4 separate regions of the Homo sapiens genome follow, and all the other regions are linked to region 1. The links come from fine-mapping of genetic effects on gene expression. A gene starts in region 1. Each other region holds a variant in brackets. All regions are shown on one strand. Distances are from middle to middle.

The links. PIP is the estimated chance that this variant, and not a neighbour inherited with it, causes the effect.
Region 2: its variant is the best candidate, but not a certain one, in a credible set for the expression of STAMBPL1 in atrial appendage (GTEx, PIP 0.59).
Region 3: its variant is the best candidate, but not a certain one, in a credible set for the expression of STAMBPL1 in whole blood (TOPMed, PIP 0.51).
Region 4: its variant is the best candidate, but not a certain one, in a credible set for the expression of STAMBPL1 in whole blood (INTERVAL, PIP 0.77).

What each region holds. Positions count from the first base shown.
Region 1 is chr10:88,877,222-88,885,187 of GRCh38, reverse strand. It overlaps STAMBPL1 (STAM binding protein like 1), which reads right to left and starts at 4,943. Exons shown (of 11, transcript NM_020799.4): 1 at 4,550-4,943. It overlaps LOC124902551, which reads left to right and starts at 4,524. Exons shown (of 1, transcript XM_047426134.1): 1 at 4,524-5,454. The coding sequence starts at 4,766. The coding sequence ends at 5,293. It also overlaps the pseudogene PTCD2P2. RefSeq lists enhancers at 2,015-3,214, 4,235-4,344 and a silencer at 4,925-5,054.
Region 2 is chr10:88,924,107-88,932,072 of GRCh38, reverse strand. No RefSeq gene overlaps it. Among named protein-coding and RNA genes, the nearest start is that of ACTA2-AS1, 4.6 kb to the left of the region's middle. The variant A/G (reference allele first, on the strand shown) is at 4,005.
Region 3 is chr10:88,856,430-88,864,395 of GRCh38, reverse strand. No RefSeq gene overlaps it. Among named protein-coding and RNA genes, the nearest start is that of ANKRD22, 8.6 kb to the right of the region's middle. The variant C/T (reference allele first, on the strand shown) is at 4,619.
Region 4 is chr10:88,911,517-88,915,516 of GRCh38, reverse strand. STAMBPL1 (STAM binding protein like 1) reads right to left here. Exons shown (of 11, transcript NM_020799.4): 6 at 2,059-2,416; 7 at 859-983. Among named protein-coding and RNA genes, the nearest start is that of ACTA2-AS1, 19 kb to the left of the region's middle. The variant GTATT/T (reference allele first, on the strand shown) is at 1,743.

The DNA.
Region 1 (7,966 bases):
TTAGGAAAATAGGTGTTGGAGTCATATTGCCTGGGTTTGACGGCCAGCTCTATCATTTACCAGCCTATGATGCTGAGCAATTCACATAGCTCATTTGCACATTTTTTAATCTGCAAAATGGTACTTAGGCATAAGGTTGTTTAAAGAATAGTAAAAAGAATAACAACGAACACATATAGCACTTAATTTTGTGCCAGACATTGTTCTAACCACTTTGCATTTACAGCTATTTATTTAATCCTCCCTAAAACCTTCTGAGATAGAAACTAACGTTTCAATTGAAAAGCAAGGAAACTGAGACTCACAGAAGTTAGTAACTTGTCCAAGGGTACACTACTAGTACGTGGGGAAAAAGTATCCTGTTTCCAACCACTCCATCATCATTGAGATAAACTTGTGTTAAGGCTTAGTACAGTGCCTGGCATATAGCACATCTTCAATAACTAACAGCTATTAATAAATATTTGTCAAATGTTTGCAAGATTCTGAGGTTACACCAGGGCTCCGCAGGAAAGAATGCTGTAATCCACTGGTGATGTCTCTGTGGGTGTGGAAGGTATTAGTGATCACACTTGTGCCACAGGTTTTCAATCTCTTTCACATAAAACAAAGAATCCTGATATCTGCCTAAGGTTTTCTTTTCTCCATCTCAATGGGATCTGAGATCAGGCTGTCATCATCAGACACTGGATTATTGCCTTCACTCCCTAATACTAATCCACTCTCCACCCAACTGCCAAAGTGTTCTTCTGACAACATGCTTTCCTCACTTGCTCCCTTTCAAGGAACCTACAATTGGCTACCACCTCAAATCAAAATTCCACCCCCACCTTTCAAGGGCCTTAATATGACATGGAGGAAACCCGCTTTTCACTTCTGTTCAAGTGCTTAAGAGCCTACTTGTCAAATAAATACTTGGTAGGAACGGCCACGTTTCATTATGCAGAGAATAGCTGTGTTTGTGCTACTTCAGAACAGTGATAAGCAGTTTTTTATTTTACATAATATTTTACTTTTATGTATTTATCTTTGGACATAGCCCAATTTTTTAAAATAAATTGAGAATCTCATTTGACTTTCATTCAGAATGAAACAAGCTTGATCAGAGAAGGACATGAAAGGAAGAATTTCAGGAATAAAATTTGCATTATTATTACCCACTAGAAAGTTAATATCCAGGTAAATTTCAGATAGCTTTCTAATCTGTCATCCTGAAAGTGGAACCTGAATAACTGGGAGACTTTCTAATGACAGGAGATGGAAAGTCAGAACTAAAACAAAAACAAAAAAAAAGGAGTCATAACATCCTTAATATTCAAGACAATGCACCCATTTCCAAAAGAGTACCTTGAAAGGTTAACTACAGCAAATCAAGACATAAGAATTACTGGTGTTTATATCAAGGGACTTCTTTTAATAAACACAAGTTACTAAGCAACCACCAGTCAAATTAATGTCTCTAAGCCAACCACATCAATGGAAAAAAATAACACAGATTTAATTTAAAAGTTAGAGCATCAAACAATATGTGTTTTGAAGACTCAGCAGTATGCCAAATGTTAAATTGGCCTGTCCACTTGACATGCAGAGATGGAAGATTGTACTAGACGTTAATCTGATTTGCTTAGAAATGCAAATAATTTCTGACAAAAGCCACATCCAGATGTAGCTACATCCAGATTATTCCTGAGTTGAACATTCTGATGTCAACTCAGGATTTCTGAATGTACATTCACACGTTCAATTGGACAGTTCACATGTTCAGATAGGTGGAATAAGCAAGTCAACAGGTACCAATAGTATTTTTTGTTGGTTTTAGTTTTGTTTTAGAGTTTTGTTTTTGTTTTGTTTTGATTTTGTTACTGTTTCTTCAATCGAGGATGTTGGCCTTCTTAGTTGATTATATGAACTGGGATTCAATTTGATGAAATGTTTGGTGATTCATATAAAGTTATGATTTAAAAAATAGCAGAAGAGGTGATGTAGTAAAAAAGGATGAGTTCATGTCCTCTGTAGGGACACGGATGAAGCTGGAAACCATCATTCTCAGCAAACTATCGCAAGGGCAAAAAACCAAACACCGCATGTTCTCACTCATAGGTGGGAATTGAACAATAAGAACACTTGGACACAGGAAGGGGAACATCACACACTCGGGCCTGTCGTGGGGTGGGGGGAGGGGGGAGAGATAGCATTACGAGATATACCTAATGTAAATGACGAGTTAATGGGTGCAGCACACCAACATGGCACATGTATACATATGTAACAAACCTGCAAGTTGTGCACATGTACCCTAGAAGTTAAAGTACAATAATAATAAAAAGACATTCTAAAATTTGTCATTTATTTAGCAAATATTTATCAAAGAGCTGCTATGCATCAGCCCTAAGGAATGGAAATCTGGCTCTAATATCTTCAGGGATAACCATGAGTCATTTCCTGTAGTTTCAGTTGAAGCCATCTATAAATCTTTCATAAGGTCAAGAAAAAGAAGATAGTAGCAGACAGAATCACAAATCCAGTAGATTAATTAAAATGTCCCTAATTTGTAAATGTACCCACCAGGAAAGCACCTAGCACTTCCTGGACGGAATCTACATTATTTTCTCTCACATTCCTTCTACTTCTCATGTTTTGGGCAAGAATCATCAGTTTTCTTTTCTTGTAAAATGCAATCTCATTTCTTGGATTGTAGCTGTAAATTCTTACAGCTGGGAAGGGTCCTAAAGGAAGGAAATGATCAAACGGTGTTAATTAAGTCCTATGTGCTGAAAGTAAGAAGAGAGAACTATTACTAACAATTCTTTATAACTATTTTTATCAGTCCTTCTTAGGAATCAACCCCAAAGACACTCTCTCCTCCAGAAGCAAATCTCTCTATTGAGGACATCCTCAGGAAACTGGTTCCTCACTACTCCCTCCAAGCCTCCCACAAACCGTAAGAATCCTATGAAACAGGGCAAGAGTACCAAGAAACAGGCCTTGAAGGTTGAGATAGAGGTAAAGGACTTAGGTTATCTGCCTTATAATTTAAATTTTGGTGCTTACTTTATAGGTGAGGATAAGAAAACAAGTTTCTTCTTGAAATTCCCAAGAACCAGTTGCTACATAAATTACAGCCAACGTATACGCAAAAGCAGATTCTTAGTGGCAATTTGCTGTATCTGTGTCTGAACAGAAAACAATCAGCCAATTCATTTTGCAGGTAGATTCCAATAACATTTTATGCCTTTGAATGGAGAAGCTCTCATGGTGCAAATGGTAAACAAAAAGAGCCTACTGCTCAGCGACACATTAACTTGTATTAAAAATAAAGATATGTATAGTGTAGCTACACAATGCCCACTACAATCCAGTGGCAGAGTATATTTTTGAAGTGCAATGTAGCATCCATCCTGAAAACACAAAATTTCCAATGGAAACAAGGTCGGGATAAAAACAAAACACGGTGGCTTAATTTCTGTGTAAAACAACCGTCAAAACCTACCCTCAAAAAAATTGACACGAACAATCAAACATTCAGGTATAATTTATCTGCTGGAACAAATCTACGTTATTGACCTTGACAGGGCCTTAAATCATGAGACCATAAACAAGCATCCTAGTGATATCTATTATGTCTTCGGAAATAGCTTAAAATCCAGGACTTCATGTTATTGTCAGTAATGAGCAAGATGTTTGGAAAGCAGTGTGCTCACTGGGGCTTACTTTGAAAGCTGTCTTTTTTACTTACTACCGAACACTGATTTCCAGGAAGCAAGCCACCCCACCCCACTTCCCAGGCACTTGATTTTTTTTTTCAAACCTCTAGATTGGGTTCCGTTTCCTGAATTACTTATTCCTTACATAAATTTTCTTTTAAACTTCAGCAATTATGGCACCTTAGGCTCTGGGGGTATCAGCAGCGTGGGTTGTTTTAGAGAAAGTTCTGAAAAAAATATGTTTTGGAGACATTCCATTTCTTTGTGCATCTCACTGGGGGCTTTCAGCGAAAGCTTTAAGTTATTCAGGTGAGGGGCAATGTCTTAGTCGCTCATAAAGGGCATAAAAGTAACATCATCTGGAAAGGCATGGCACCTGCTCGGCCGGGGTAAAGGTCCGTTTTTCTAACCCTCGCCCCTCCCTCCTCCACACCGCGCCGCTAGAGACAGTGCAGTGGTCTCTCCCAAGGTCGACATCATCTCCAAGGCTGCAACCCAGGGCTGAACCAAAAAAACAGGCGCACCCACGTATAGGTCACGGCCAGAGTCCCGCCCTGCCACCAGCAGCCAGGTCTTCCTGCCTCCCTATCAAGGTGAAACTAACCCAGAGGGCCCAGCGGAGGGGCGCATACAGGCGGCGCCGATGGAGGCGGCCGATTGCATGACTGGCAGGAAGGAAGCGATCAGCCGCCAAAGTGCATTTTTTCCTCCCCTAGAGCCAGCCCGGGACCGGACGCTGCCAGCGGAAGGGCCGGCGCGCGCCAGGCCACGAGGCAGACGCACCCGCCGTGCGCACTTCCCCGTCCGGTGCGCGCTCTCACTCACGCGCGCGCGCCGCTACTCACTAGCAACCCTTGGTGTCCGCAGCCCGTGTGGGACGGCGACTGCGACGGCTGCCCCCGTGGCTGCCGTGTGGCCTTGGCATCCGTCCGGCTGCTGCAACCCGGGCCGCGGTGGCTTTTGCTGGAAGGCGTTGCAGCGGGGTGATACCGGCACCCGGCGACGAGGCGTCCGCTCGTTTGCCTCGGCCGTGCCTCCTCCCCCTTCTCCTCTGCCGACAGATGGAGCTTTGCTGGTTCCAGTCGCGCGGGCTCCGTGCGTCGTTCTCCTCCTCGCTGTCGGACACCCCAGCGCAGGGGACGAACAGCGTCCTCGCAAGCCCACGCGCAGGCCGGCCGACCCCGAACCTGCAGCAACCGTCCCTGCTGCCGCTGCTGCAGGAAAATAAATTGTCACTGCGATGGTCCCGGCCTCCCCTGCCCCGGCCCCTGGGTGCCGCCTCCGCCTCTGCCTCCGCCCCCTCCTCTGTGGCGGCGGCGGCGGCTTCCCGCATTCTGCAGAAAAAGCTCGCAGGTGGAAGGAAGCAGGGCCCCTGCGGATGGCCTAGAGCCCGAGTGAAGCGGTTGGGTGCGACTTTCGCATCTGAAACCCTGCACGTCTTCTCCCCAGACCGGAACCACCTAAACTCCCTTTTGCTCCACCATCAATTTCACCGAGATGGACAGGAGTGGTGCCTTTTAAGACTGCACAGTACACAAGCCTTGATGCAGCTGACCGTTAAACTGTCACTGGAGTCTGGGGAAGGATAGGGTTTTGGTGAAAATCCCACTTATACTTCATGTTAGGATTCCCTTTTTGATATTTATCCACAACTGGCTACGCCCACTATTAAGCATCTTAGCCCTTCCCCCTACCCCCAATTTGTGTGTACTTGGAAAATAAGAAGTATTAGAATATCTCCTGGATGTTATGTTACTATCACGTGTGGTGTTCTTACTACAGTTCTGGCACTGTGTCAGGCAGTCGGTACACAAAATCTTAGTCCATCTGCCACAACCCTGTATATAAAAGGGACTCATTTTTTGTTTTTGTTTTTGTTTTTTCCATGAACGAGAGACAGAGAAGTAAAATAATTTATCCCAGGTTACTCACCTAGAAAGCAGTAGAAGCTGAAATTTAAACTCTGATCCAACACTGAAAGCTGTTTCTATTGGCTTCACAGGTTCTATTAACTGATAAACATTTTATGGAGACTGCTGCTGCTGGATGAAATAGAGTCGCTTTTCTTGAGCTTGGTTGGGAGCTTACTTCCAAGTGAGAGAAATGGCTGCAGAGTGGGGTGGGGAAACACTGGCTTTTCTTAGTTAGCCTTTCCTCTGGAAACCAAAATTCTAGCCCTGGCTCAGCCACCAACTGAGTTATTTGGTCTCAAGCATTTCACCTTCTTAAGCCTCATCTCCCTGGATTCTTTTTTTTTTTTTAAATGAAGAGTTTGATTGTTGGAGGCAGCCTGCAGCCTTGATTTTTAAGAAGCAACAGTGTTGTTTTGCTTAGTTTTAAGTTGGTTCCAAATGTTGAAGTTAGGAAATTTCACAGAAATTCAGACTTTTCACATTTTCTGTAAAATCGTAACATCAGACATTTGGTCCATGGCGAGTTCTAGCAACCATCAGCTGAAGCTGAATAGCAGGTGTCGCCTTTAGACTGTGAAGACACTCTTCAGTTTTCCACAGTCCCCACCACTCCCATACACCCCCACCTCACTGACATTTGAGAATATGGTAGGCATTTGAGTTTGCAGTATTGAACCAGATAATCTCATGACCTACTGGACAATTTAAAATTCAGTGGTAATTAAGAAGGTTAGCCAGATTCCTAAAAAGCATTATGAAACAAAAAATTCCACGTACGTATTTAGAGTGGTCATTGATCATGGTCTTGCTATCTAGCATCCAAATTCTCATAAAAGCCAAAATGGCCCAATACCCATCGTCCCCTGCTCCCCAGCGGCTAGAGTACCATTTTGTGACCCAACATCAGCCTCAGAGACTCCTGTACAGTTATTTGAATCTGGATTATGTGTTTCAAGAAGAAACATTTTAGAAATGTCTCCATTATCTGTGAAGTGGGTTTTGTGTTCAGGGACAGTAGTGCCAGAGGTAACACTGCGGCAATGTCAGTGGTGTCCTAAGTGAGCTATTTGAATGGTGTGATGACCCACCTGTTGTAATTTCAGCTGCTAAGCTTCCCTTCCTGTGTAAGGAGACTTATTTGCCAAACTTCCTGTCTCTTTGGTATGCTACTTAACGACTTTCCAATATATTTCTCTTCTGATTCAGTTAGCCAGAAATGATTTCAGCGTTGTGACCAAGAACTCTGATATAGCAACTTTAGGTGTGATTTATTTCCCTTTTATTAATTGAGTTAATGAAGAGCAAGCACCAGTGTATTTATACAACTTTTATCTTAGAGAATTTTTAAGTGACCTATAGTTTTACTTGCATTTTTAAAGATTCAATCTCAATAGTAATTTAAAATCCAGATTTCTTTTTGCTCCAGAACTTTTGTTTCTCTTATTTTTGAGACAATTTTACCCTACTAAACCTTGAATGAAGATTTCAAATCTATATGCAAATACACATAAGCACTATTATTTTGCAGATGAGAAAATGAGGGCTCAAGTTACAGAATACATGAAGGCAGAGCAGTGAGGAAATCCTGGGCTATTTTCTGATATGGTAGAACAGGGTTTCGGACCTCCTGAATTCAGCAAGGGTATAATTTGCAAGTAATTACTCCCTTGAAAATCAGAGTTGACCACACTTGTAGTGAAATTCATTCCTGATAGTGCCTACTGGGTTCCACTCCAGTACTGGAAGCTGGACTGGAGACAGTGACCATGTTCCTTCACGGATCCTCAGTAGTGTGCACAGGGGAAGCCTGCTTTCTGAGGGAGCTGAGCTTTCTGTGCTTGTATCTAGATCTTCACAGTGGCACGACATAACTTCTCAGAGAGCAGCATGCCACCATTCAGTGATTTTAGGGAGGAAATCAAGTGTCACTGTAGTGTCTGCTGAAGTGCGATGCCTGCTTCTTAGGGAAGCCAATAACTCACTGGAAGCAGGTCTTCATACCCACAGGTGGATTGAAACTAGGGTTTACTCAGCCAACAGGGACTGGCCCAGTGCCTGGAAGGTCTAACAGGTGACCATCCTGTTGTTTTATGGCAACATGTGGGATTTCCCGTCCCTTACATTTTTAAACGGATGTCGCAGAGCAGAACATCCAAAGTGTAAGTGGTGACCTGGACAACGATGTGCAGTTTTCCATACATCTCATGAAATCTGGCCACAAAGACAAGCGCAACTTTCCCTTTTTTCCTCACTTTGGCCAGCAGTTCCTCTGAGAACTCACGTCTTTCAACGAATCTTGATACATTTCCTTCTGCAACGCCCTTTAGTATCTCCATCACAGTTGCTAAC
Region 2 (7,966 bases), 47 kb before region 1:
TCCGCCTCAAAATAATAATAATAATAATAATAATAATAATCCTCTGTTGTTAATGTGGTATCATTTGTGTAGCTAGGAAATTCTCTTTAGAAGAATTTCTAACAGAACAGCTTGGAGAAGAACGTCTGACTGTAGTTAGGGAGGAGGCTGTCTGGACCAACACACACTTGCAGGCAACCAGAAGCCATTGCTGCAGCGCAGCTCAGTTTATTCAGAAAGAGACAGCCAAAAAAAAAAAAAAAAAAGAGAGAGGGAGAGAAAATGGGGCAGCCTGAGATAGGGTTCTTCCTTTTCAGAGTATGAAGTAATGTTTATTCCTGGGAGAGCAGAGTCAACTTAAGTAATGTCTGAAGAGCACTATGAGCTAGGACAGAGAGCAGTGTCAAGGAAATAGAACTAGGCAAGGTTCTGCCTGGATGGAACCTGCAGCCAAGTGAGGAAGATGGGCACTAAATAAGCAGTTGGGTACATTGTCAGGGGTTCAAAAGAAGAATTATATGGGGTACTGGCTTTTATAGCCATGGGCTCTAACTTGAGCCAGGAGCTCAGGAGAGGCTGCCTCCCTGAGAAGATAGTGCTTAAGCAGAAGCTTAAAGGGTAAGAATTGAGTAGACAAAAAAAAGGGCTGGGGGCTAGAAGGGGTTAAGGTTTGGGAAGGGGAAGTAGGACCTGCATGGGATGTGTTCCAAGCAGAGGCCCAGAGATGTAAAAGTGCTGCATACCTGGGAAAAAGAGAACCCCAAAGAACTGGACCACACACACAAGTGTGACCATGACTTCACTACAATTTTCCAAAGTAATATTCATAACATTTTTTCTATGAAAAAATCAGACACCAATTTCAAGCAATGGAAGCAATGTTGCATGAGAAGTATGGCATCTCTGGACCATCTGCTTTTCCTGAGCATTTCACCTTTCAGGTTAAATTATTGCTTTTCCTGAGCATTTCACCTTTCAGGTTAAATTATTCATCTCACATCTGGGAAATGAACATGCAAACATTGCCACCTCTCAGTCTAATTTACTCATGGAGGCTGTAGCTCTCCCAGAATGTCCTCCTTAGAGCAATTTCTAGCCCCTTCTTGGCTAAAGGGAATAAAAATGATTACTATTTGTCTGGGTTTGAAACAATGCTATCCTCAAGGAAAACTGATGATGGAACAGGCTTCCGTATCGTGAGGTTAATGACAGTTTTCCAGAGGCCTAAAATTCAGGGGTCCTTAAGCAGATTTCCTTATCCTTGGAGAAAAGTATGTGGTATTGCAGACACACCACATCAAAAGGTGTTCTTTTTATACTCTTCTTAGTTCTTGCCTTCTGTTTCTTTCCCTGCACATTTAGTTTTGAGCCTTAGTCCTCTGTCCCTTCATTGAATCAATTATTTTTCTTCCTTTAAGACCTCTCTGCATATGCCATAACCTGAAATTCCCTACAAAATGACCTAAAATCATGTAACTTCAGGCCTTCCTTTAAAAAAAAAAATGACATCACCTACTCAGGCAAAAATATATTAAACAAGTAAATTCTATTTTTCAAATTTAACATGAGCTCTTGCTCTTAAGACTTAAAAAAGTCCGTGATTTCAGAGAGATGCCTCAACATAGTATTCTTCCTTATGAATGCTTAAACCACTGACTTTGATGGAAAGCAAGAGTAGTATTCTAAAGTGCCATGACTAGTGCCTTTTGTTGGTTGCTCTCTCTTTGTATTTCTAATCCTACCCAGCTGAAACAGCTGACCTGACTATCCTTGATAAAAATAAATTCTCCCTCTAAACATGGTGCTAGTGACCTTGATAAAGAGTCAGGACTGGTGTCCCACAACACTAAGAGAGTGATTGGAGTGAGTGAATTCTGGAGGCCTCAGACATCTTCATCATCAACTTTATTTTACTACTGAAATTTGACTTTAGAGGAATTAAGCTGATCACATATTGCTCTGTCAAAAGGAGAATGAGATGCTACTTTACATTTACTAGGATGGCTGTAATAGGATGTAGAGAAATCAGATACTTTATATGTTGCTGTTCGGAATATAACATGGTACAGCTGTTGTGAAAAACAGTTTGGAGGTCTCTCAAAAACCTAAGCCTAGAGTTACCGATAACCCTGCAATTCCACTTCTAGGTGTAGATCCAAAAGAATTGAAACAGGTACTCAAACAAATGCATGTACATGCATGTTTATAGCACTACTACTCACAATAACCAAAAGGAAATGTCTTTTTGGTTATTGTGCCCATTAATGGATGAATAAACAAAATGTCATCAATATCCATCAATGGATGTCCATCAATGTCCATCAACGGATGAATAAACAAAATGTGGTATATACATAAATTTATATACATAATTCATCCATAAAGATGAATAAAGGACTGATACATACTACAACATGGATAAACCTTCAAAATGATACGTTAAGTGAAAGAAGCCAGACACAACAGCTCACATATTGTACAATTCTACTTGTATGAAATATCCAAAATAGATAGATCCATATAGAATGCAGATTGACAGTTGCTAGGAGCTGGGGGGGAGAGGGAGGGAAGGGGAGCAACTGCTTAGTGGGTGATATGGTTTGGCTGTGTCCCCACCCAAATCTCATCTTGAATTGTAGCTCCCATAATTCCCACATGTTGTGGGAGGGACCCAATGGGAGATAATTGAATCATGGGGGTGGTTCCCCCATATTGTTCTCGTGGTAGTAAGTCTCACGAGACCTGATGCTTTATAAGGGGAAACCGCTTTCACTTGGCTCTCATTCTCTCTTTTCTGCTGCCCTGTAAAACACGCCTTTCGTCTTCCATCATGATTGTGAGACCTCCCCAGCCAAGTGGAACTGTGAGTCCATTAAACCTCTTTTTCTTTATAAATTACCCAGTCTCAGGTATGTCTTTATCAGCAGGGTGAAAACAGACTAGTACAGTGGACAAGGGATTTTACTCTGGAGTGACAGAAATCTTTTGGAACTAGATAGGGACGGTGGTTGCACAACACTGAATGTGCTAAATGCCACTAAATTGTTCATATTAAAATGGTTAATTTTAAGTTATGTGAATTGAGCTTCAATAAGTTATTTTTTAAAAATAAAAAACATACTGCCTTGGAAAGAACCTTGATAAGTACAAAATTTTATTGCTGAAGACAGCCTGCTGAATCAGTTGATTCACATGCCTTATTTCTGTAGGTAAGGAAATTAAATTTCCTAAAAGTGATATAATTTGCCCATGGTCTTTCCCAAAGTCAAGAGCACAGCAAATGTCTTCTAGTTGCTTGCTTTGCTTTCCTTGTCAGCCTTTATATTAGAAGGAAACATAATTGAGCTTTTTTTCTTTTTAAATCAATCTGTAAATGCCTTTTTCTCTTGGAAAAAGTGCAAAGGAGAATTTTTAAACCTCCTCTTCAGGCTCAAGAATATGAATTCACCATGCATTCCATTGGTACATCTGGGACCCAGTGAGACAATGAATAATTCATGTAAACAACTGTAATTTTTCACTGCCATCTCTTGTTTACCTGATAGAGATGCACGGGTAATGCTCCTTGATTGAGAAAAAAAAATCTAATTATCTCCATTTGGTTTTAGAATGTCTTGTCGTCCAGATAATGTCAAGGCATTTACTTCAAACAAACAAATTAAATAAAGCCAGTCTGCAATGCTCTTAATCTACCTTCCCTCCCCCAGAGTCCTTCTCTGTTTTTTCCTCTCTTGTCTTCTGCATCTCCTATCCCCATCCTGAAGTCCAGCAAGCTGTAGTGACAGACCTTAAGAGTATCACAGGCTTCCTTTCTAAATAATATTCCCTTCCCTGGATTTTCTTTCCCTTTTCCATTTCTCTGTCTGGTTATTCAAACATATACAGGAATATGGATTTTACTAAGTCCTTTAATTATAAAAACATTACAAAATTAAAAATATTATAATTATATAGCAACATTACTAATATGAAAATATATGGCTTTAATTAAGAAATGTTTTTTTGTCAAACAAGTTTGTTCTTCC[A/G]TGAGGTAAAATTTAATACCTAGTATTATTTAATCAACTGGCAATTCCTTTTGAAAAATATCCTTTTAATGAGTAATTTCTTAAATCTATTTGAAGGCATCTTCACACCAGATCAAAGGTAATATAATAAAAGCTATTCACATTCTCATCAGAATGGTACTTTTTAATATAGTAACTATGGGATCTCAGAAGATGTACAGCAGAGCCTCCATATGGCACTGAAAAAAGACAAGAAACTAGCTAGTTGGCACTCGCATAGTTACGGATCAAATATTGGTGCCCCCGCCATTAATATGCTGAAACCTCATCCTCGTTGCAATGGTATTTGGAGGTGGGGTCGTTGGGCGTTGGGAGATAATTAGGTCATGAAGGTAGGGTCAGGCCCTCGTGATAGTATTTGTGTCCTTATAAGCAGAGACATGAGAGATGATTTCTCTCTCCCCCATTTGAGGGTAGGGCAAGAAGGTAGCCATCTGCAAATAAGGAAGGGAGTCCTCATCAAGAACTGGACTATGCTGGCACCCAGATATCAAATTCCAGCCACCAGAACTGGGTGACAGAAATACAGTGTTGTTTACGTCACCCAGTTTATGGTATTTTTGTTGTAGCAGTCCAAATGAAGGCCTGCCTTTTGATAGTTTAAAAAACAACAACGTCTTCTTGGACATCAGTATGCTAAATCTCTAAGAGCCACTAAGTCATGTTTTCATCAGCTCTCCCCGAGATAATATATTCTGGCCTTATGAAGAACAAAAGAGTAGAAAAGAAAACAAATTTTAAGAAATTTGTTGCAAAGAGCAGAAAAGCTCTTTGCATCTTAGTTGTCTTCCCAGTAAATAACAAGCCAAATTCTTTTAAGAACAAGGAGTTGAAGGTTTACCTTTCTTTCTTAATCATTGCCAAATGCATGACATTTCTCACGCATTCTTTTCACAGAAGATATTCTCTTGCCAGATAATTCTGCAAGACATGCCAGAAGAGAAACATCTGCTTTCCACATTTAGGACCTCCTCAGCTGGTTTTGCAACAGAAACCTCAACCTAAGGTCAAATCATTGTAATAACACAGTCTCCAACACAGTTGATGTGGTTGCAATGTGAAATGAATTGGGAGAAAACAGAAGTGAACCAGTGTGGCGCCAAATAAAATGTCAAATTTCCACAAGCAAAATCCTACTAAAAAGAAACTAGGAACAATTTGAGTAGCTGAGAATAATCCACAAACATTCTGCTTTGCTCTTCTACAACTGACAAGGCCTATGGAAAGAATGATTTCTGCCCTGCATGACAACAAAGAAAGCCATTTCCAATTCAGTCTGTAAGAGAAAAGGAAACAAACAACTTCAGCAAATATTTACCGGATACTACATTAGTTTGTGAGGGCTGCCAAACAGAATACCACAGACCAGATGGCTTAAACAACAGAAAATTATTTTCTCACAGTTCCGGAGGCTGGAAGTCTGAGATCTAGGTTTTGGCAGGGATGGTTTCTTCTGAGATCTCTCTCTCTTTGGCTTGCAGATGGCAGTCTTCTTTCTGTTTTCCCATGGTCTTCCTTCTGTGTATGTCTGTCCTAATCTCTAATTATAAGGACACAACTCATACTGGATTAGTGCCCACTCTACTAGCCTCATTTTAACTTAATTATTTGTGTAAAGGCCCTATCTCCAAACTCAGTCATATTCTGAGGTATTGGGGGGTTAAGGACCTCAACACATGAATTTGGGGGACACAATTCAGCCTATAACAAATACACATGAGGTGTCAGGCACTGTGTGCAAACTGACTAGCACTGAAAATCAAAGGAAGTTCTTAATTGTTTCTTTTTTTTCTACAGAAACACAAATCTGAAAAGAAATGAAGAACCATCTTTGCCTTAGGATGTGGCAAATGGAGCTTTGGAACTGATTCATATTCAAAAGAAGGATCTCCTGCCCTAGCAACACAGCAAGACCTCATTTCTACAAAATAGAAAAAAAATAGCCAGGTGTGGTGGTGAGTGCCTGTAGTCCCAGCTACTCGGGAGGCTGAGATGGGAGGATCGCTTGAGCCTACGAGATCAAGGCTGCGGTGACCCATGATTATGCCATTACACTCCAGCCTGGGCAACAGTGTGAGACCTTGTCTCAAAAAAAGAGAAGGTGCTGTCTGCCTGTTGTGAAAGAGACCTTCCATAGATAGTTTATCCAATGAACACTGGTGCTCATGCACATGTGTGTGTAGTGGCGTCTCCAGGTTGGTTAACAGGGTCTCTGCCTCACGACCAGTCCATTACTTAGTGATGTGGTCACATTTCTGTTGGTTCTTTCAGACACAGCCCCAGGGCCTCATTCTGCCAGCCAAAGTCAGGCTCTGGTTTGCCGCCTCCAACAGTCCCACTCTGTGAGATCCTGGTTAATTTGGTTTGTACTTGGCAAAAAAAAAAAAAAAAAAAAAAAAAAAAAAACCTACAAAAAAGTGCCAAGAATGTCTCCTTTATTTAGGAAATACAATATACTTTCTTAGTGAAAATGAGTTCTCTTCTAGTTTGCTATTCAGAAGGGACATAATGGTTTTGCATACTCATAGCTTCTCTTTCTAGTCTTTCTGGAAATCTAAGATGCTAAATGTTCTTGGCCCTCAACTGAGTCCTTTCTATCTTTAGGCACCATTCAATGTCCATAGCTTTTTCATCGGACAACTCTCATTTTACATCCTCTTAGTGTATTACTATAATTTTTAATTCTATACAAAGGATCTCACTCATTTCTCAACTATCCATTGTCCCAACAATTATTTTTACTTGAATAAAGAATATAACATTTTCCTTTGATCAAGCATATCAGAATATCATGGTGTGTTTAAGTGTTAAGACACTGAGGACAGCACCACTCAGGAAAAAGTGAGGTGTCTATGGAGCCAGCCTTGCAGAGTTAATCTGCTCTTAACTAGTGGTGGCCATAGACTAAAGTCTCCATGCACAAGGCAAGCCAAGCTCTACTTCTGAAGTCTGATACCTGAGCTCTCCATAGCTAGAAGATTCCATGAAACAGAAACAAGCCACTGACTTGCCCATAGTAGGTGGTTCTGTATAAATGAGAACAGGAACAGAATTCAGGTGACATGATACCAGAATTGAGAACTAGACAAGCAGGGAGGGTTGATGCATTAGTCCATTCTCATGCTACTATAAAGAACTGACCAAGGCTGAGCAATTTCTAAAGGAAAGAGGTTTAATTGACTCACAGTTCTGCATTGCTGGGGAGGCCTCAAGAAACTTAAAATCATTGCGGAAAGGGAAGCAAAACACGTCCTTCTTCACATAATGGCAGGAAGAAGTGCTGAGCAAAAGGGAAAAAGCCCCCTATGAAACCATCAGATATCCTGAGAACTCACTCACTATCATGAGAACAGCATGGAGGTAACCACCCCAATGATTCAATTACCTCCCACCAGGTCCCTCCTACTATGATTTAAGATGAGATTTGGGTGGGGACACAGCCAAACCATATCAGATGTTAACCCATCCAAGCACAGAGTACAGGAAATACCACTCTGGAATATGGAAATCATTGAACTAAGCAGTGGAAGCTAGTACATGGAAACATGAGTTGTTTAGGCAACTCAGATACAATGTCATGAGGAAAGCAAAGGCAGGGAGAGCTGTGGCTGGCACAGAAGACATTGGGAAGACAGAAGGTTTCATAGGATTAGTTTGGCCCTGTTGAAAAGTTGTGGAGATCCAGGGAGAGATGGCTGGAGAAGGAAACTTAAACGTTGAAAAGAAAAAAGAAGAAAGCTAGACTAGAGTAATGTAAGGCCCTAAAGGATGAAAAGGGAGACTAAGAAGTGATCACAAGTTTCTCGATCAAGGAAAGGGCTGTCAGCCCAGGATTTCCCAATGTGCCTGGGAGCAATGTCTTCCAAGATAAAGATTTCACCTGCAGAACTAGTCTTCAGTGTCCCAAAGGACCTATTCTCAAA
Region 3 (7,966 bases), 21 kb after region 1:
GAGACAAGAGATGAATGGAGATTGGAAGGACAGGAGATCCATTAAAAGGAGAATCTAAATGTTTTTCTGGGCTCTCTGAATCGCTGATGTATTGATGCAAATACATTAGTGGCAGTTATTTCAACCAAGCATGTTGGACCTAGCATTTAATATCCTGACTACACCATATGGGTAATCCAGCTGTGGGTCCAAGCAACTGAATTAAGAGCTGAAAGAAACATTCAAGGTCAATGAGTTACCTCATCTAAGGCTGGTCCCTTGTTCATCCCAGGTTTAGCCTCTTCTTGAGTCCAGAGAACTCATATTAAGTGCACTTAATCAGGTTGGCTTCTCCCTTTGTTTCCAGGGTAAGTTGTATCTGTTGAGAAACTTTGAATATATGTACCAGAGTCATATCCCTACTTTCTCCTATTCTGATTATATGGGAAAAATTTGGAGGACAGGGAAAGATAATGGCCACTCATCATTTGGTAGCCTAACCTGGGTTTCTTTTTGTGGTGGCTGGATTTCGAAAGAAGGCAGAAAAGAAACTGGCAGACCTCTTAAGATTTAGGTGCAGAACTGGCATACCATCCCTTCTGGCACATCCTAGTGGTCAAAGCAAGTCCCAAGACTAGCCCATATTGACGGCAAGAGCAGTCTGCAGGCACAGGTATGGGAGAAATTGTTGGTGGCCACCTTTGCAGACAATTTCCTACACTCTTCATGTTCTTGACACTTCAAATCATTAGTTCATCTAATTTTGATGACTATTATTTCACTGTTCTGCAAATTTGATGGGTTTTTTTTTAAAGACAAAGTCTTGCTATGTTGCCTAGGCTAATCTTGAACTCCAGAGTTCAAGCAATCCTCATGCATCAGCCTCCCAAGTAGCTTGGATTACAAGCATAAGCCACTGTGCCCAGCTTATTCTTCCACTTTTCAGATGAAGAAACTGATGTTCAGAAATCTGTAGGTCAAATAAATGCCCAAAGTCATCAATCTTGTAATGATAAAGCCAGGGAAGGGATCTTCTTCTCTCTCTCTCTTTTTTTTTTTTTCGAAGAAGTTGGTGTTCTTTTTAGTTACCTACAGCATTTCTCGTTTTTGCAGTATTGGTTAGGATACAATTTGGGTGTAAATTTAAACAACTTTGAGTTCAAGGGCCAGAAGAGAAAAGTGAAGCCTAAGTAGGTTTAAATTCATACAGGGATCAGAGCAGGAGCTTGAACCAAAGTCCTATATTGGTCTTAGACATCCAAAGCCCCAGAGAAGCACCTGCCACTCCGGCTCACCCAAATAACTCAGCATCTGTGGCCGTGCCTGCAGGGCTCCCCATTATCACATCTGAGTGTTATGACCTGCTGAGTGTTGAGCCCCTTGGATGTGCTTGGCGATCCAGGAGGCAGAGGTGAACTAATGATTGTTTCCACCTGTTCTATGTGATCAGGAGCCATGGGAGAGAGGAGCCCTGAGGTGAAGGACTGGGAAAATGTACAGAAAATCTCACATCAGCTCCTAGCTAATTCAGCCTTCTTGTTGGAACACCTGTGAAGGATTCTGCCTCATGCTGTTTGCCTCTGGGCCAGTGTCAGAGGGGTTTTGCTCTGAGAGGGAAAGATTAAGAACTGTGAATTTGCCCACCATGACATTTATATATAGTGTTAATAACACCAGTGTTGTAATGCAACAGGACAATAGCTGGTTAAGTTGTATTTTATAATAGAAAGGTCAGGGAGTGCAAGATCACAATTAGCAATATGGAGTGTCAATGGTTCAATGGTTCTTAGAGGCCAAAACGAGTCAAGGTCTGGAAGCCGAGAAACCATTAATGATAGCAGAAAGTCTACATTAGTTTAAGGAATAAAGCTCATTCAAATGAAATAAACTACAGTTCCTAGGGGGAGCAGGAGTGTATAATAGTACGGAGGAGGACTTTAGAGGCAAGCATCTGAGATTGAGTCTGAGATGATGTCTGTTCATCTTGAGCAGATAATTTTACCTGATGTCTGTTCATTTGAGCAGATAATTTTACCTCTCAGAGTCTTAATTTCCTTATCAGTAAAAAGGGAATAATAATAGTGTCAGTCTTCTAGGGCTACTGTAAAAGAGCATTAAAGGGTGCCATGTGGATAAGGTTCGTGAGCTATGTCCAGTGAACAGGAATCACTCAATGAATACTAGCCATTATTACTATTTTTTACAAACGTTATTCCAAAAAGCCATTATTTTTCATTATTATCTAAAGAGACTATCATGACGACTGAATAGACAATATGTGTTACGCACGTGGCAGAGGGCTCAGCATATGCTGAGTGCTAAATAAATGAGGACTGTTACTATCAGTATCAAGTAAATGCTAGGTAGTCACTAAAAATGATATTGAAGCCTATTTTATAACATGGAAGGATGTCATATACTTTTAAAAGGCAAGTGTAGATTGTAAAATGTGCACAAAGTCTCATTTTTTGCAAATACATAAATTGTGTACATATCCATATGAAGGAGATTAGGTTATATACCCAAAGAGATGCCATATACTTTAATGGTTAAAGTAATAGATACTGAAGCTAAATCTCCTGGCTTTGAATCCTTGTATTACCATGTATTAGCTGTGTGACCCTAGACAAATTACTTGATGTCTCTGTGCCTCAGCTTTCTCATCTGTTAAAAGGGGATGGTAATAGTACCTACCCCACAGGATTGTTGACCCTGTTAAAAGTGTTAGTACACGTAAAGGGGTTAGACTATTTTCTGGTACAACAAATACTATCTATATATTTGAAGATGCTATGTGTGTGTGTATTATATGTATGTGGCAGAATTCTTGGAATTTTTTTTCTTTTCTATTTTCCAAATTTCAAAGTTTTTATTTTAAAGACTAGAAAATCAGTTGGGATCAGTTGAAGCAGTATTTCTCAATCTTTTTTCATTGTCCCCCACCAAGGAATCTTTGTAGACTTTTTCTTTTAAATTATCCTTCCTCCATAAATTTTATTACCGTATATATATACTGTATATCCATTTATGTACTTGAAGGGAACCAGAATATGCCATTCCAAAATATGCTACATTGGTAAAAAGATAATTTTAAGTTGAAGACATTTGTGATTGAACAAATTTAGAAAAGGGGAAAAAGAAAAAGCAACTTTGAAGCTTCCCTTTTCTGACTAAAGGAGCAACTTCTGGGAAACAAGATTGTCACAAATCCTTTTCAGGGCATGTCTACTCCCAGAAGAGAGAGAGAAAATAAAACCTACCCCAAATCTCTTCTCCAGGAGGGTTTTATGACCCTGAAGGAGATGAAAGACCATTTTGTCCTGTGTAGACATTTTCACAAACTTTCTTATTGCCTGTTTTTTCTCCTGCAAATGCATTTATTTTTCCAAAAAGTCATTTGTTTCCCATAAGTGCCTTTATCCCTTTACTTATTAAAATGGTATATAAGCCCCAAATTCTAACCACCCCTTTGAGTTACTCATCACCAAGCTCTCCCACATGTACGCATGTTGCATGAATGAATAAACATTGTAATTTTCTCCTGTTAATCTGTTTTTTGTTAGTCTGATTCACGGGCCCTGGTGGCTAAACATAAAGAAGGCAGAAGAAAGTTTTTTGCCCCCTCCCCTACATATTATATTTCTATCTGTGCTATGTTTATAAGGATAATAGACTTTTTTCCCCTCAAGAAGAAATTTCATTTCCTGGGAAAACAATATTACTCTCATTGAGAATGTATGAGTTAAAATACAAAAAACAACCCCATATTAATGGTCAAGGAAGAAAGCTATAGTGTCTAGGAAGTTTAGTAGGTCAAAATCCTGGTAGTAGCAATTCAGATACACAAACAAACCTGTTGATATTTCATGGGTTATTTACCACAAGGGCTGTTTTGAGTTTCATGCCTGGAATAGAAATGAGCAGGCAGTTCTGGCCCCAAAAATGCCCATCAAAAGATGAGTACAGCTGTTGAAAGAGTAACATTAGGAACGTTATTCATTATACACCTTCATTAATTTTATGTAAAGAATTATCAGAATCTCAAACCCAAACGCATTTAAATATAAGTGCAAAAGTGCACCTGAAGCCAGATAAAATGTGAAATTTCCCATTGTGCTATTTCCTCTCTAGGCTTTTGTGTTGGAAAGATCAAAAATTGTCTTTTTTCTAAGTGGCCCAGTACCCCTAACTTTTGAATCACTTATTGGAATGCTTATTCAAATGCAGGTTCCCACATCCTCACCTAGAGATTCTGATTCATTACTTCTCATGTTGTGGGGGGTGGGAGGGTATTTACATTTTAGTAAGCCCCCAAGTTATTCTTTCTTTTTTTTTTTTCTGAGATGAGTCTTGCTCTGTCACCTAGGCTGCAGTGCAGTGGCTGGGTCTCTGCTCACTGAAACCTCCACCTCCTGGGTCCAAGCAGTTCTCCTGCCTCAGCCTCCCAAGTAGCTGGGATTACAGGTGTGTGCCAACTGTGCCTGGCTAATTTTTGTAGTTTTAGTAGAGATGGGGTTTCACCATGTTGGCCAGGCTGGTCTCGAACTCCTGACCTCGTGATCAGCCCACCTCAGCCTCCCAAAGTGCTGGGATTACAGGCGTGAGCCACCATGTGTGGCCCCCAAGTTATTCTTAGGCA[C/T]ATTACACAATGATGCTGAGGATGATACTAATGACAATGATAGAGAAAATACATAGATTACTGAGTGCCAGACACCAAGAATTCTTGCTCATCTCAAGGAAAAGGAAATCCTAGGAAACTGGTTCAATACTGGATTTCTTCAAAGCTTTGGAAAGGCTCAAGACACTTATAATTTGATTTAAAAAATAAAGATTTGTGATGTCTCTTATACACTAAATGTCAGCCGAATTTCTCTCTGTCACAGTTTTATTAGTCTTTTTAAATACTGCATCATACACCTGGCTCAAAACATAATTTTGGGGTTAAGAAATGTAAAGTAGAGGAGAAAAGAGGCTAAGAACATGGAAAAAAATCTTCTCTATAGTAGTATGATAAGTGCCTTATAAAATGGTTGGCCATGAATGAAGTTTTAGTCTTATAGTTTTTAAGTCTTTTAGATGCTCAATTCTTAGTCCTTTCAAAGCAATTTTAAAGTCGACAGAATAGAATGTTTTCTTTCAGGTTGGTGAATGGGTTCTGTTCACTTGTTTTGGTGGATTTGTGAGTGATAGAGGAAAAGAAAGAATGTTTTGATTTGATAATGAGGTATGTGATAGTATTTCTTTGGATAGCTGCCTTATTTCATGATAAAAGGTTGGTTGTAAAAGGTCTGAGTATTACCAAGAAGTAGCGGGGAAGTAGGTCGGATTTTAGAGAGGAAGGATAGGCATCTGGCCAACCTAAAGGCAGACTGCCATGACCTTAACAACTTAATTTAAAAAGAGAAGCAAACCTTCTCCCTCCAACACAGTCCAAATAACCCTTTATTATATATAAAAAAGGACAAAACAAATAAACAGACAAAACCTTGTGAAAATATGAGACTACATTTTATAGACTCAGAGTGGAATGTGATGCATGAACATTAAGGACCTGCCAGGGAGTTGAGATACAACATCTCTTTTTCAACCTGAAAAGGCACGTGAAATAAGAAAAAAAATGTAGTGCAAAGTTTAAAGTAGGCAGCACCCTTCATCTTAGGTCAGAGTAGTAGACTTATACCATAAAAAGTATAGCTTGTCTCATACTGTGAAACTGGTTTTACTACACAATTCCTGAGTCACTGGAGGAGTAATGGACAGTTTGCAGAAGCAGGTGACTATTTCTGGAAACAGTCATCGAGCACAACAGGATTTCTCAGTAAGGATTTATCAGTAATAGAGTTATTTCTTATTCTATTTTTACCAAGAAATGTAAACTCCCTTGTCTTAGATATATTATCTCATAAATTAAGAAACACAAATCACAACATTTCAATGACTATGGGACATTGATCATGACATGTACTCTGTGTGTTTTCATTAAAGCAAATGATAATAACTAATGCTGCAAGTACATGGTAGAGGATGACAAAGAAATAGAACACAGCAAGAAATTAAGTGTTGCATAAGTGGTAAACAATTAAGTGGCTTATTTTTAATTTAAACTTATAATGCCAATATTTTTATTTTAAGGACTGGCTGATACCATTTCCTCCTCCATAGAAAAAGTTTCTTAGTTACTAGAAAATTCAAAATTGATTCCAAATTTTACAAGATTTTTTGAGTCTTGGGAGAGTTAAAGTGAATTAAATTAGAGACCAGGCCTGAAGAATCCCTGAGCACACAAAGTCAGTCAGGCCTCATAAGTGACCTTAACCTTGCTTGATTTGCAAACATAAGCAAAACTTATTTGGGCCTTTTCTTTTAAATCTCTATATTAAAGAAAAAGGAAACTTAAAGTTAGCTAATCAGAAGTCACCACCTAATTAGCATATGGCTAGGGACTTTTCAGCAGAATAAACCAAATAAGGCAACTGCATTACTATAATCAATCAAATATTTTCTTTGCTTTAATTCCATGTTCATCTTTGTTCCCCTTGCATTTCCTCCAAAGAGATCCCAAACCACTTCTGGTTTGGTGCTGTCTAATACATGAATTGTTATTTGTTCAAATCAACTCTTTAGAGTTTTATTGTGCCTCAGTTTACCTTTTAAAAGGAATAAAGACCCTATGTTAGTGTAAAGCAATAATTACTATTGCAATTTGGCCTCTGACTCCTGTACTTAACTTAAAGTTAACATTCAAAATCAAAAAGCCTCCACAAGTAAGAGAAAAATAGAAAAAGATAGCAGGGTTCCAATGCTTAAAACTCAGAAACATAAACATCCTGATTAGCAAATGTACTTATTTAATTAAATAGTAACTGTCAACATTAAAAGGCATACAATAAAAAATGTCCTTGAGTGAGTTAAAGAAGAAATAACTCTGTACAACCAAGGACTTTACAAAGTTTTAGAGGAAAAAAATAACTTTAATAAGGTTTCCCAACTCTTCTATTTCTTACATTGAGGATTATTAATCTAATGCTAATGACCCTCAAAAAGCTTAATCTCTAGTGTAACCCTTACTCTAAAACTCCAGAATCATATAACAAGCTTTCTATTGGCATCTCCACTTAGTGTGCTAGAAATATGTTCCTTAAATAAAATTTGTGCATACCTGAGCTAATCATCTCTTCCCAGGCTTTCCCTAATCTTGCTCTTCCAGAGTTTTCTTTGAAAGATAAAAATCTACCAAATTTCCAAAGCCAGATACATGCATATTATCCTTGTTCTGCCATTTCCCATGTATCTTATATCAGATGGATAATTCTGTTATTTCTAGCTTCTAAACATCTCCATAGTACTATGTTAGTCCAACTTAAGTAAAGAAAACAACCTAGTTATTTAAACACAAAGAATTGAATGTCTGGAATTGGTTAAGTAGGTATTGGAAGACTAGAAAGTAAAAAGAGAATATTAAGGTAACACAGAGATAGAATTGCAGGAACAGCTACCACCCCTTGGACTGAGGGAACAGAGTGAGGTTGGGGTTATTAGAACTTAGGAGAGAAAAGGGCCTTGAAATTCTGGGCCCCAGGCCTTGAGGAGGGGCCATTTCTTGGTAGCTGCTCATACCTCAGAATCGCAAGGAAGGAATTGCATGAATTTGGGTTCGGGGAGAGAAACAATTAGTGCTGGGCACCTCTGAAAGGTATAAATAGGCTGGTTCTGGGAATGTGGAAAATAAGCTCGATCAATTGCTTTTTCTTGGATGAAGAGCTATTGGTGGGATGAGGCCGATAGGATTGCAAGCATATAGAAATGAGTAGATCTCTTTCTCCCTCTTTAGCGTTGTAATCTCACATGGAGTGCTCCTTAGAAAATAGACCAGGTTTCAAGAAAGGGTCATATATGCAAAGCAATCTCCAAACAAGGAAGGAGCCAAGAAACCAAATAATAAGGCAGACAAAATCAGTTTTTTGATAAAGGGTAATTTATTGGGGGA
Region 4 (4,000 bases), 32 kb before region 1:
ACACTGTCCCCTTAAGTGCAACAGAGGCGACTATAGATGCCCATTCTCCTGTGCTGCCACCAATGGCTTCCTATCTCTTGGAGGGAAAGTGATGACAAAACACTGGAATGCAGCAGGAGATTGTGTACTGAATACAATGTATTATTATTCAATAAAGCAGAGGTTCCTAAGCTAAATTTTGAGAACTGAAAATATACCTGGACCCAGATATATAAACTGGTACTCAAAACAGACTATGAAAGGACACGTCCAAAGAAACATTATCTCTGTTGTAGATAGGAAATTGAATGCATCTCCTCTCTTTCATCCCTTCTATTATGACATTGTCTTTCATCACATACTTATGATGACATCTTCCATAATTAAGTATGTCCTGTGCTTATAGGCTTTTGTTGAAACTACTGCCTTAAACTAAAGGAAACTACAAAATCCTAGTTTTATTCCACGTGTATCTGAAAAAGAACAGCAAGATAATACATGCCACAGATGAAGTTAATTATATGAATGTATGTGAAACTAACAATTACAATGAAAATTTGATTTGGCAACCAGATAGATTTGGAAATCTGAAGACCTATATTTCGTACCATTTTTCTAATCAAAGATTTAATTTATAGGTTGATTCTTTAGGACAAGTTTTTATAGTGTCTCTGAAATTTTACAATCTATTTTCTAAAAGGATCATTCCATTAGTAATGACAATAGTTTTATAAAGTTAATCTGTGTAACGTTAATTTCATAATATTGATAACTCTTAGCATGGTTTTATTCTGTTCCACTTATCAGAAGAAATCTAGTACTATTAAAAGTATCCTATGCAGATATATATATATATATATTTATATAAAAAGATCATACCAGTTTTCCACAGAGTATTCCACAGGTTTCTATTCCTCTCACTGTATTAGATTCTGCCAGTTGCAGAAATTTGTGGCAAAGATCTTCTGGCAAAACTACACATCGCAGTCCTTCAACCACTAAATCTAAGAAACAAAAAAGGGAGAAAAGGCTAAAAAACAAACTATATGTCCCATCTTTCAAAATTGTTATTGGCAAACAGTTGCAGTTGGACATAAATTTCAAAAATAAAAGTATCAGGTGTTCCACTTTCCATATTTTATTTTAAAACTCTTAGAAGTAAACATTAACTAGAAGTAAAATTAAATTATGTATATAAATTATTTTATAAGCAAAATCAGAAGGTACAAGCACTTTTACATGTTTGTATCTTGGGTTAACTATTTACATGTTATGTTATCTTTAGGCATGAAGCAAATATAGGGTTAAATGCATAGGCTGCATAGAATGCATCTCATATCCTATAAGACATAGATAAATATTGTGTTTATCATGTTACTTCTATCTTCATGAAAGTTGGTGATCAGTAAGTAAAAGCACAACGTTTTGGTAAACAATCAGCAGTAAAGTAACTTTCAAAATGGTTGCCTATTATCGCTCATTTCAAATAAATGGGAACACAAATTCTATCTGACAGTGTCTGCGAAGAAGAATTCTGTGTTTTGGAAACTTGCCAGCACTGATCTGGCAGTACTGAGCAGCACTAATTCTTGCGGAAACACACGGTCCATTTGGAGGTTAATTATCTATGTGTATGAGATTCTCTCAGTCCAAGGATGATGCTAAACATATTGAGTATAAACATTTATTGCTGAGCAAAGGTCTAGATAAACAATTTTCTCACACCTTTTCTCCCCAGAAAGATGGATGTATTTAAGATGTAT[GTATT/T]TCTTAGTTAAAATACATAGAAGACAAAAGTACTTGAAATTCTTCTCATTTAAAACCTCTGTCAATGACAAAATACTTCCCATTTATTATAGAGTCTCTGCTCTATCGGGGGCATCATATTTCCTGAATTTTAAGATTATATATAGTAAAAGCTAGAGAGTATTGAAAGGTTAATTCTTTCATTCATACCATATTATGCAGGGGTCCTACTACAATTAATAATGAAATGAGAAGGACCCTCCCAGATGCTATAGAAATATGGTTCCATCCGATGAGGCTCAGTGTCTCACATGGGTGCATTTCATCACTTACTCTGAACAGCACTTAGAGTAGCAGCTGGCGTTAAGGCCCTGTTTACAGGAGGAGAGTGGCTAGCATAATTGGTTGCATCACTTTTATTAGGTTGATCTGCAAATACATTCAGCAAGGAATTGTTCTGGTGTGTGGAAAAGCAGGACAAAGCGCTCCCATCAATCTGCTCTGACAGCCCTGAGGTTTGCTGACTTCGCATTTGACCTCGGGCTAACTCTTGCTTCTTGAGTTGATCTTCGAAAAACAGAAACTGCTCCGATTCTAGCTGCTGCTGGCGCATCTGAGCAATCCGCTTCCTTTCTGCCTCTATCAATCTCTGATGCTCCAATTTTTTGAGAATTTCAGCTTTATATTTGTTCTAAAAAGTGTGGCAGCCAGAAGAGAAGGTTAGTTTCCAAGGAGAAACATTGAACTGGAATTAGACATTTTCAGTCTTCAAGCAGACAGAGAAAATGCTAGATACTGTGATATGCCCACAGGGACACTCATGGAACAGTGAGAGAAATACATAACATCAGGGCAAAAGCCCCTTGATCTGATTAACATAGCAGTTCTAAATCCACTGATATTTTACCAGAGACAGGCCATGACAATCAGGATCCCTTCATTCCCTAATGCTTTTAAATACTGGAAAATCAACGTCAAGGTTGTTTGCTCAGTCAGACCAACAAGACCATATGAAACAAAATATCTCACCCCTACTGCACTTCTAATATAGTGGCCACTAGCCACATGTGGTTATTTGAACTTGATTAAAATTAAACAAAATTAGAAATTCAGTACCTCAGGGACACTAGTCAGTCACATTTAAGTACCCAGAAGCCACATGTGGCTAGTGGATACCATATTGGAAAGTGCCAAACAGAACACTTCCATCATCACAGGAGTTCTATTGAACAGTGCTGCCCTAGAACCTTTCGCATTTGACTCTAGAACTCATACTCTGCTGGAAATTTATGGATAAGAAGGAATCACTAAAAAATGGTTATTAAAATGTGTTCCAACCTTCTCTGTCACCACTAACCCAGAGTTTTGCTAAAAAGGAGGAGTCCCAAGCTCTCCAGTTCTAACAAAATATCCAGGCTTATTAGGTCAGATAATATGAAATATTAATGAGCCTTTCAGGTGATTTTGATAGAAACTAGATTTGGGAGCTACTGTAAGATGGCGGTAGCATGGGGGACACAGCTTATAGTGGCACATTCAGGTGCATACAAATCATCCTGGGGCTAATTGCAGTTGCAAATCCTGATTCAGCAGGTCTGGGGTGGGGCCTGAGATTCTGCGTGTCTAACAAGCTTCCAAATGATGCTAATGCTGGTGAAGCAAGGGCTCACAGGCATTGCTGTTTATCTCTCCTAGGCTCAGTCCTGCTATTCTAAACCCACAGAGATTCCCACATGGGTCACCACTGTAGGCTATGAAGTGACTGGTATCAAAGGCAAAACATGCAACAGCTGCAGAGCCTGTTCCTCCCAGGAAGATCATGAAGAGGAAGATCATACACATTGCTGACCGTGGAAAGGAGACTTGAACTGGGCTTTCGTCTCCCTTGCTGTTGTTGCTTTGTCTTACCCTCCAAGAAAATTTCTATCTTTCATATTTCAAGTCACATTATTAATATACACACTTGAGGGACATTTCCAATTTCACCATTCCCTCTACCACTTCGTTAAAACTCTCCACTCAAGCCAGCCTTCCACCTATGCCCATAGAAAGTCAAAAAGCTCAATGAGCATTCTCAGAGATGATGAGATTGAACTGAAGTGAGAGTCAGTGAAGGTGGTAACCCCTAAAGCAAATAAAACACAAACAAAAAAGCAAAATAACATCTATAATGATGCTATGTTGAACGTGAGTATCCCATACATTCACTGGCCAATTTCTTCTTCCAATGCCTTTCTGCCTCTCAGACATTATCATAATGTTCACTCTTTATTAA